Regions from separate parts of the Homo sapiens genome. Here region 2 is linked to region 1. Evidence: fine-mapped expression QTL. Tissue or cell type: unexposed skin. Region 1 holds a variant in brackets; the other region holds the start of a gene. All regions are shown on one strand. Distances are from middle to middle.

Region 1 (5,370 bases):
TCCTCCCACTGCAATGCTCCCACCTCGGCCTCTTCAAGTGCTGGGATTTTAAGTGCGAGCCACTGCACTCAGCCTGTTTGTTTGTTTGTTTGTTTGTTTGTTTGTTTGTTGAGACAAGGTTTCACTCTTGTTGCCCAGGCTGCAGTGCAATGGTGCGATCTCGGCTCACTGCAACCTCCGTCTCCCCCCGGGTTCAAGCGATTCTCCTGCCTCAGCCTCCCGAGTAGTTGGTATTACAGGCATGTGCCACCACACCTGGCTAATTTTGTATTTTTAGTAGAGATGGGGTTTCACCATGTTGGTGAGGCTGGTCTCAAACTCCTGACCTCAGATGATCCGCCCACCTTGGCCTCCCGAAGTGTTGGGATTACAGGCGTAAGCCACTGCGCCCAGTCTTGTTTTTTTTTTCGTTGTTGCTGGTTTTTTTTGTTTTTTGTTTTTTTTTTTTTTTTTTTATCAGACAGAGTCTCTCTCTGTTGCCCAGGCTGGAGTGATGTGGTGTGATTTTGGCTCACTGCAACCTCCACCTGCCGGGTTCAAGCAATTCTCCTGCCTCAGCCTCCTGAGTAGCTGGGATTACAGGCGCCCGCCACCATGCCCGGCTAATTTTTTGTATTTTTAGTAGAGACAGGGTTTCACCATCTTGGCCAGGCTGGTCTTGAACTCCTGACCTCGTGATCCACCCACCTTGGCCTCCCAAAGTGCCGGGATTAGAGGCGTGAGCCACCGCGCCTGGCCGCCTTGTTTTTTTTTTTGAGATGGAGTCTTGCTCTGTCCTCCAGGCTGGAGTGCAACGGTGCGATCTTGGCTCACTGCAACCTCTGCCCCCTGGGTTCAAGAGATTCTCCTGCCTCAGCCTCCTGAGATTACAGGCACCCACCACCATGCCCGGCTAACTTTTGTATTTTTAGTAGAGACGGGGTTTCACCATGTTGGTCAGGCTGGTCTCGAACTCCTGACCTCAGGTGATCCACCTGCCTCGGCCTCCCAAAGTGCTGGGATTACAGGCGTGAGCCACTGCGCCCGGCTCCTTGTTTGTTTTTAATGAAAGGTTTTAGTTGATTCTTAGTCAGTGTGATTTTTTTTTTTTTTTTTTTGAGACAGGGTCTCGCTCTGTCGCCCAGGCTGAAGTGTAGTGGCGCAATCTTGGCTCACTGCAACCTCAGCCTCCCGGGTTCAAGCGATTCTCCCACCTCAGCCTCCCTAGTAGCTGGGACTACATGTGTGAGCCACTATGCCTGGCTAATTTTTTTGTATTATATAATTAGTAGAGGTAGGGTTTTGCCATGTTGGCCAGGCTAGTCTTGAACTCCTGGCCTCAAGTGATCCACCCACCTCAGCCTCCCAAAGTGCTAGGATTACAGGTGTGAGCCACTGCGCCTGGCCCAGTCAGTATGATTTATTGAGCTCCTACTATATCCTTGCGAAAGCCTCTAGGAACATGGATATTTAGAAATCTGTAAGACCCAATTCCAGCCCCAGGAATTCACAGTACAGTGGGCAGCCACGAGTTAAGGCTAAGAATTGCTGAAGAGCTGTAAAAATAAAGCAAGTTTTCTTGTTTTGGAGAATAATCACAGAATTCGGTTTAAGGATTCTATGTGCTGTTGCAACTCTAGAATTTGTTGTTGTTGTTGTTGTTTGAGGCAGGGTTTCACTCTGTTGTCCAGGCTGGAATGCAGTGGCGTGATCTCAGCTCACTGCAACCTCTACTTCCTGATATCAAACAATCCTCCCACCTCAGCCTCCCAAGCAGCTGGGACTACAGGCATGCACCACCATGCCTGCCTAATTTTTTTTTTTTTTTTTTTTTTTTTGTAGAGACAGAGTTTCACCATGTTGCCCAGGCTGGTCTTGAACTCCTGGGCTCAAGTGATCTGCCCACCTCAGCCTCCCAAAGTGCTGGGATTACAGGCCTGAGCCACTGTGCCCGGCTCATCATTTTTATATGGTAGAGGTTTAAGTCAGGAATTTAGTTAGAAGGGATTAATCAGGAGTCTTCTTTCTGGGCTACCTTTACCTAGCAAACATCCTGTGTTTACTTAGACTAGGGTTCCTCAACCTCAGTAGTACAGACATTTTCAGCAAGATAATTCTTTGTTCTGGTGGTTGTCCTGTGCATTGTGGAATGTTTAGCAGCATCTCTGGCCTCTGCCTGCTAGATGCCAATAGCACCTCTCCCTTCAGATATGACAACCACAAATGTCTCCAGATATTGCCAAATTTCCCCCAGGGAGGGCGGCTAATCATTGCAGGTTGAGAACCACGTACAGCATGTTTATGATAGAAGGGAGAGGACTGTCAGGCAGTTTTGTGTGTGTTTTTAAACAATTAAAGGGCATTGCCAATACTGTGGATTTTAGCTTCTTTGGAAGTTTGATGTGAAAGGAGGCAAAAATCCTTCTTGCACATCAGCTTAAGGTTTTGCCCATATCGTATTCAAACAAAACCACATGGCTGGCACATAGTGGCTCTCAATAAATATATAATAAGTTGAATGCACTATTCAGCACATAGCTAAAGTGGTGGTGCCTCCAGGGAGGGACGTGAAACTTAAAAAGGAAAGACTGGAGTAGCTACTCAGGAGGCTGAGGCGAGAGGACTTGAGCCCAGGAGTTCGAGGCTGCAGTGTGAGCTACGATCCAGCCACGGCACTCCAGCCTGGGCAACAGCGGACGCCCAGACTCAGAATCCATGACAGACTCTGGAGCGAAGGAACAAGTTCAGGGATGTTCCACAATCACGCGATTCCCAGGACAGGAAAGGGGCCGGTGGGGGTCGCAGAGCTCGACCAAATTCTGGGCAGACTACTCATCCG[G/A]CGGCAGGAAGAGCGCGGCGCGCACCGGGCCCGCGCGCACCGGCTCGCGCCGCACCCCCGGCCGGAGAAAGTCGCGCTTGTTCTGCGCCAGGCACAGCAGCCGCCCGGGCTCGGTGTCGTGGCCGTCCAGCACTTCCAGCTCCACGGCGAAGGGCGTCCGCACGTCGCGCTTCACCAGCCGCACCAAGGCTTTCTCGGGCTCCAACGCCCACAGCAGCCCCATGGGCTGGAGCCCCGCGAAGCTGCCTCCCAGCGCGGGCGCGCGCTCCAGGTCCAGCTCGTCGCGGGCGTCGGCACGGTAGCGCGCGTGGGCCCGGAAGAGCGCGCCCTCTTCGTCGCGCAGGGACGTGCGCAGCGTGACTGGCTGCTCCGGGGCCAGGCCGCGCACTGCGATGCGCAGCGGCTCGTCCCAGCAGCAGCGGCCCGCGGGCTCCAGGATCAGCGTCGCTGCCATCCCAATCTGGGTAGAACAGGGGCGACCCAGCTCCGCGGAGTCAGTGGGCGGGCCTGGCGGCTTTGCCGAGCGCTGGAAAGTAGTCGAGGGCGGAGCCCTTAACACTACTCCCATTGGTTGGACTTGGGGACAGGCTCCAGGCCGCTGCGTGGGGCGCCTAGAATTTGTGCAAATACACCAGTGTCCCAAATGAAAGAGTATCTGCTGAAATAAGAGTTAATGACCAATCCGGCCGGGGGCGGTGGATCACGCCTGTGATCCTAGAACTTTGGGAGGCCGAGGTGGGTGGATCACACCTGAGGTTAGGAGTTCAAGACCAGCCTGACCAACAGAGTGAAACCTCATCTCTACTGAAAATACAAAATAGCCAGGTGTGGTGGCGCATGCCTGTAATCCCGGCTACTTGGGAGGCTGAGGCAGAAGAATTGCTTGAACCCAGGAGGCAGAGGTTGCATTGAGCCAAGATTGCACCATTGTACTCCAGCCTAGGCAACAAGGGCAAAACTCCGTCTAAAAAAAAAAAAAAAGAGTTAATGACTATTCCTGCAATCCAATGTGGTGAGTGTCGAAATAGAGGCACAAAAACCACTGAGAGCTAAAGGATTGAGAGAGATACAGTCCAAGAATCTAGATTTTGAAAAAGCATCCCAGGTGATTGTACTCAGGTGACCCCTTGGAGAAACATGGTCGTAATCCGTCCTTTACCCCTCAGTCCCTTACCAAGCCTTTTTTCCAGGGCTAATGGTACCTGGAGCAAAGCAGATGTTTAGGGAGGCAGACCTAGCCGAGTTCTGGTCTGACCCTGATCCTTAATATTAATACCTGGTGATCTTTAGCAAGAAACATAACCCTCTAAATTCAGTTTTCTTATCTGAAAAGGCTTATTGTGACCATTAAATGGGCTAATGTGTAAAAACACTACACTGACACACCTGTAGGTTAGTACCCAGTGAAAGTTTTGTTTTGTTTCTTACCTCACAAATCTAATCACTGGCAGAGTCCATTTTGGGTTGTATGCATACAGAGTTCTGGCAGTAAGCAAGTGGCACTCTCAGCCTGTGTAATTGAGGAGAGTTTTATAAAGGTACTATCTACAAAGGCATGGGCAAGATTTAAAAACAAAAACAATGAAACAAGATTCGGTGTAGAACCCTGAATCTGAAGGTTCAAGGGAAGGGGGCAGTCTGATAGGAGTTGTACCTTTTTTAGAAGGAACCTATGGTTTGTGGCAGGAAGGAGGAGACTATAAGTCCCTTGACTCTCCTCTTGTTTTTCAGTATCTTGCTAATGCCTCTCTTTGGCCAAACCCAACCACACAGCTCAACCTAGCTGGGAACATAGCAGGGTGGAGAAGGAAGAAGAGCATATAGTGATGCCCAGCTCAGTAAACATGTATAAACTGAACAAAAAGGTATTAGACTCTATGAAGCAAGTTCACTGTATGCTGGTTACCAACTTGTCTGAGTCCAGTGAGAAAACACATTCATATATTTAATACAACAATTTACATGAACTGGATTTATTACTTACAGATAGGCAGCAAAGAATGACAGAAGCCTAAGAATCATTGGAAACCAGTCCCCCAAGGCTCAGGAATGCTGCCTGGGTGATGGAATCTCATGTGTGTGTGCCCCACTTGCACTGCAGCTGCCCTGAGTTTTGTACTCTGGGGTCATGTGACTGCTGGGTTAAAGCATTGAAAGACATCCTGTTTGTAGGGAGGGGCTGGAATAGAGCCAGGGCTATTCCAGCCAGTCCGTCCCTCTCTCAGGATGTTACATTCCCAGCACGTTCTATGCTTGAGAACTACTAGTGAGAAAGAGGGGAGAACTGAGTCAGTCCAAGGCCAACCAGAGAACTGCCCTGCAGTCCATCCCCAACCCAGATACCTCCTTTAGTAAACCTAGTACATTTCATATGCCCTCCAGACCCCCAGGATCTGGAGGCAGAGGTTTGTCTGATCATATTAATATGGCACCTTGGTCGGGCACGGTGGCTAATGCCTGTAATCCCAGCACTTTGGGAGGCCGAGGGGGGCGGATGACTTGGGGTCAGGAGTTTGAGACCAGCCTGGCCAACATGGTGAAACCCTGTCTCT
Region 2 (5,370 bases), 21 kb after region 1:
CCACAGATCCCATCAAGTTCAGGGCCACATTCAGGTAGGTCTGACTGAAGTCTTCATGTGGCAATGCATCCAATAGTGTGGAACCAGGTTGTTTCAAGATGTGAATCATTCATCAGATCATTTGCCATATGTATTGGCAAATGATTACAAAGCAAGACTTCAGAGTAAGTAAGTTTGTTCTTGGCTTCTGAAAGGGGTGGACAAGTTCTGACCAAAATCTGAGAACATACTCTGACACCAGGAAATTAAAATTTAAAAACAAGCATGCAAAGACAGTAGATTAGAAATTCAATTTGCAATATACAGATAATATTTAATATTACTAAATAAAATCTCATGTGGATTTTACAATTAATTCTATATCACAAATTCATCTGACAGAAAAAGTGGAAATAGCACCTTAAGCCAAGGAAGTCTCCAGAAGACATCTTTGTGAAAGAGGAACAGAGCAGCATTTCTGCACGTGGTAAAGGTTACACTCTCTATGGAAATATTTCTAGAGAGACTGATTAAATAAAGGACATGAGGAGAACCTGGGGATGTTGAAGCATGTAGCATACGGCTTCTTCGAAGTACTCCAGGGATATGTTGTCCATGTTATTGGGGAGATCTTCAAAGTTATAATAAGCTAGAGCCAACGTGGCAAAGCCATGGCCAGCAAGGAGGCTGGCTCGATATTCCAAGAGGCCCCCTCCAATACCAAAGATGTCAATGATCCCTGGGAAGGGTCCAGGTCCTAGAGAACAAAATATTATAAATGTAAGCCATTATACAATTTAAAGAATTTGCTTTCCTGGCTGGACACTGTGGTTCATGCTTGTAATCTCAGCACTTTAGGAGGCCAAGGCAGGAGGATTGCTTGAGGCCAGGAGTTCAAGACCAGCCTGGACAATGTAGTGAGACCCCATCTCTACAATCTTTTTTTTTTTTTAATTAGTCAGTGTGGTGGTGTATGCCTGTAGTCCTAGCTACTTGGGAGGCAATGGAGGGAGGATCACTTGAGCCCCAGAGGTCAAGGCTGCAGTGAGGTGTGACCACACCACTGCACTCCAGCGTGGGCAACAGAGACAGACACTGTCTCAAAAAAAAAAAAAAAAAAAAGAAAGAAAGAAAAGAAAAAAGATTGAAACAAAACTTTATGTTCTGTTGCATCAGCCCTCTGGTTTTTAGTGTACTGATATTTCAGATGTCTATGTAGAAAGGGAGGAAAGAAAAAGAAATACCCAGAGATGGTTTTAGGTGAGAAAGGCAGTGGAGTCTGAAGTGTGACCTGTGATAAAGCAGCACATGAAGAAGTGGAGAAGAGACAGTGTGCCTAGAACACTAGAGAAGACGACATGGTAATAGCTTCATTCACTGTCATCATTCTGCCTTAGACAAGTCAGGCTGATGCCTGTAGAAATCTGTAGGGTAGTGATTAATAGCAAAGTGGATAATGTACCTGACGACCTGAACCTGTTTTTTCATCTGCAGAATAACAATACCAACTTCATTGGGATATTATAGAGACTAACTGATAGAATGCAAGTAAAAACCGTAGTACACAGCCTAACAAAAAATCCTTTTTTTTCTTTTTTCTTTTTTTGAGACGGAGTCTCGCTCTGTCACCCAGGCTGGAGTGCAGTGGTGCGATCTCGGCTCACTGCAACCTCCATCTCCCAGGTTCAAGCGATTCTCGTGCCTCAGCCTCCCGAGTGGCTGGGACTACAGGCGTGTGCCACCAGGCTGGACTAATTTTTGTATTTTCGGTAGAGTCAGCGTTTCACCATGCTGGCCAGTCTGGTCTCAAACTCCTGATCTCAAGTGATCCGCCCATCTCGGCCTCCCAAAGTGCTGGGATTACAGGCGTTAGTCACCACGCCCGGTACCAAACCCTCTATTTTGGTAGAGTGGCCACTGACATAGTCAATGTTAGCTTCTCTGATCTTGCTCCAAAACCAAACCAGTGCTAAATCAGCACTGGAAACAAACGGAGACTCAGGCCACTGACGCTCACACCACCCGCCAGCAGCCTGGCTCACCTGGCGGCAGGAAGAGCGTGGCGCGCACCCGGCCCGCTCGCACCGACTGGCGCCGCACCCCTGGCGGGAGGAAGTGGCGCTCGTGCTGCGCCTGGCACAGCAGCCGTCCAGGCTCGGGGTCGTGGCCGTCCAGCACCTCCAACTCCACGACAAAAGGAATCTGTACGTCCCGCTTCAGGAAGCGCCAAAAAGGCTTCTCGGGTTCCAGGGCCCAGAGCAGCCCCATGGGCTCGAGTCCCGCGAAGCTGCCGCCCAGCGCGGGTGCGCGCTCCAGGTCCAGCTCGCCGCGGGCGTCGGCGCAGTAGCGCGCGTGGGCCCGGAAGAGCGCGCCCTTCTCGTCGCGCAGGGACGCGCGCAGCGTAACCCGCTGCTCCGGGGCCAGGCCGCGCACGGCAATGCGCACCGGCTCGTTCCAGCAGCAGCGGCCTGGGGGCTCCAGGATCAGCGTTGCTGACATCTTGGAGCCGGAGCGGGGAATTCAAAGGTCGAGGCCCGAGACCCGTCCAAGATCGTGGCAAGCGCGCCGAATGTCCGGACGGCGTCCGGCGTCCCCTGGTGCCGGAAGCTGCCGGTGGCTGAGCAGTCCCAGAAAGCCCCTGGGACTTCAGACCGGTTAACCCGGCGCTCCGGACTCGTCTGAGGCAAAAGTAGCCAGGCTCCTCTTCAGGGTCGTCTCCTTGGGCCCCGGGGCGCGCAAGGTGTGGCGCCCAACCCACCCCGTAGAAAGCCTCTCTGCCTCACACCACCCTCGGTTGTTGGAATGAAAGTTGTTGGATGATCAATTTGTGGTGAAACCAAAAGCCAATGAGATCAAGCCAAATTCCAGCCTTTCATGGGCTCCATGGAAGGTTTTGTTTTTAACTTTTTTTTTTTTTGAAACAGAGTCTCCTCTGTCGCCCAGGCTGGAGTGCAGTGGCGCTTCGGCTCACTGCAATCTCCGCCTCCTGGGTTCAAGCGATTCTCCTGCCTCAGCCTCCCGAGTACCTGGGATTACAGGCGCGCGCCACCATGCCGCTAATTTTTGTATTTTTAGTAAAGAGGGAGTTACACCATGTTGGCCAGGCTGGTCTTGAACTCCTGACTTCAAGTGATCTTCCCGCCTTGGCCTCCCAAAGTGCTAGGGATTACAGGCGTGAGCCGCTGCGCCCGGCCTGCTTTTTTGTTGTATTTGAGACAGGGTCTCTCTCTGTCATCCAGGCTGCAAGGCGGTGGCTCGATCACAGGTCACTGCAGCCTCCACCTCCCAGGCTCAAGTGATCCTCCTGTCTCAGCCTTCGGAGTAGCTGTGACTACAGACAGCGCACCACCATGCCACGTTAATTTTTAAATGTTTATTTTTAGAGAGGAGGTGTCACCCTGTTTCCCAGGCTGGTCTCGAACTCCTGAGCACAAACTATCCTCCTGCCTCTGTAGTCCCAAAGTGCTAGTGATACGTGACAGCATGCTGGCTGCCCTCGCTCGCTGTCGGCGCCTCCTCGGCCTTGGCGCCCACTCTGGCCGCGCTTGAGGAGCCCTTCAGCCCGCCGCTGCACTGTGGGAGCCCCTTTCTGGGCTGGCCAAGGCCGGAGTCGGCTCCCTCAGCTTACTGGGAGGTGTGGAGGGAGAGGCGCGGGCGGGAACCGGGGCTGCCCGCGGGGCTTGCGGGCCAGCGCGAGTCCCGGGTGGGCGTGGGCTCGGCGGCCCCGCACTTGGAGCGGCCGGCCGGCCCGCAAGCCCCGGGCAGTGAGGGGCTTAGCACCTGGGGCAGCAGCTGCTGTGCTCGATTTCTCAGCGGGCCTTAGCTGCCTCCCCGCGGCGCAGGGCTCGGGACCTGCAGCCCGCCATGCCTGAGCCCCCGCCCCCGCCGTGAGCTTCTGCGCGGTCCGAGCCTCCTCAACGAGCTCCGCTCCCTGCTCCACTAACGCCCAGTCCCATCGACCGCCCAAGGGCTGAGAAGTGCGGGCGCACGGCGCGGGACTGGCAGGCAGCTCCACCTGCGAACCCCGTGCGGCATCCACTGGGTGAAGCCAGCTGGACTCCTGAGTCTGGTGGGGACTTGGAGAATCTTTATGTCTAGCTAAGGGATTGTAAACACACCAATCAGCACCCTGTGTCTAGCTCAGGGTTTGTGAATACACCAATCGGCACTCTGTATCTAGCTAATCTAGTGGGGAGGTGGAGAACTTTTGTGTCTAGCTCAGGGATTGTAAACGAACCAATCAGCACCCTGTCAAAACGGACCAATCGGCTCTCTGTAAAATGGGCCAATCAGCAGGATGTGGGTGGGGCCAGATAAGGGAATAAAAGCAGGCTGCCAGAGCTAGCAGTGGCAACTTGTTGGGGTTCTTTTCTACGTTGCGGGAAGGTTTGTTCTATTTAGTTTTGTAATAAAGGTAGCTCAGTTTTTGGGCCCGCACTGCTGTTGTGAGCTGTAACACTCATTGCGAAGGTCCGCAGCTTCACTTCTGAAGCCTACCAGACCACGAACTCACCAGGAGGAACGAACAACTCCAGACATGCCGCCTTAAGAGCTGTAACACTCACCGCAAAGGTTTGCAGCTTCACTTCTGAGCCAGCAAGACCACGAACCCACCAGAAGGAACAAACTCTGAGCACATGGGAACATCAGAAGGTACAATCTCCAGACACGCTGCCTTTAAGAACTGTAACATCTCCGCGAGGGTCTGTGGCTTCGTTGTTGAAGTCAGTGAGACCAAGACCAGTCTGGAAACACCAGGATTATAGGTGGGAGCTACCTGCCGTGCCTGGCCATACATGTCAGTTTACTTAAAAAAAGCTTTTTGATGAAATATAAGGTAGGCTAGGCACAGGGGCACACACTTGTAATCTCAGTGCTGTGGGAGGCCGAGTTGGGCGGATCGCTTGAGGTTGGGAGATCTAGACGAGCCTGTCCAACATGGTGAAACCCGCCTCCACTAACAATACAAAAATTAGTGGGGCATGGTGATGTGCACCTGTAGTCTCAGCTACCTGGGAGGCTGAGGCAGGAGAATTGCTTGAACCTGGCAGGCAGAGGTTGCAGTAAGCTGAGATCATACCACTGCACTACAGCATCGGTGACAGAGCGAAACTTTCAAAAAAAGGAAAGGGAAAAAGAAAAGAAAAAAGGGAAGGAAGAGAGAAAGCAAAAGTATTGGAGATAGTAAAAAGATCAGTAGTTGCCAGGGATTGTGGGGAGGGAGGGATGAATAGTTGGAACAATTTTTAGGGCAGTGAAGCTGTTCTGTATGATACTGTAATGGTGGATACATGTCATTATACATTTGTCCAAAACTGTAGATGTAGAACAAACGAACCCTAAAGCAAACTAGAGATTTGGGGTGATAATGGTATGTCAGTGAAGGTTAAT

Alleles and levels. Positions count from the first base shown, and alleles are read on the strand shown. Sizes are in standard deviations (SD) of each study's normalised expression.
For the expression in unexposed skin of the gene that starts at base 2,565 in region 2, G is the high allele of the variant in region 1 and A is the other (moderate effect, 0.66 SD a copy in GTEx).

Evidence for each region. PIP is the estimated chance that this variant, and not a neighbour inherited with it, causes the effect. A credible set is the group of variants that fine-mapping cannot tell apart.
Region 2: ACOT4 starts here. The variant in region 1 is the best candidate, but not a certain one, in a credible set for the expression of ACOT4 in unexposed skin (GTEx, PIP 0.50).

The regions. Positions count from the first base shown.
Region 1 is chr14:73,610,474-73,615,843 of GRCh38, reverse strand. ACOT6 (acyl-CoA thioesterase 6) reads right to left here and starts at 3,327. Exons shown (of 3, transcript NM_001365788.1): 1 at 2,812-3,327. The coding sequence starts at 3,272. It also overlaps a transcript of HEATR4 not described here. RefSeq lists a silencer at 1,747-1,991 and enhancers at 3,067-3,116, 2,650-3,149, 3,167-3,216. The variant G/A (reference allele first, on the strand shown) is at 2,819.
Region 2 is chr14:73,589,068-73,594,437 of GRCh38, reverse strand. It overlaps ACOT4 (acyl-CoA thioesterase 4), which reads right to left and starts at 2,565. Exons shown (of 3, transcript NM_152331.4): 1 at 2,022-2,565; 2 at 534-736. The coding sequence starts at 2,478. It also overlaps a transcript of HEATR4 not described here. RefSeq lists a silencer at 1,951-2,020 and an enhancer at 1,832-2,331.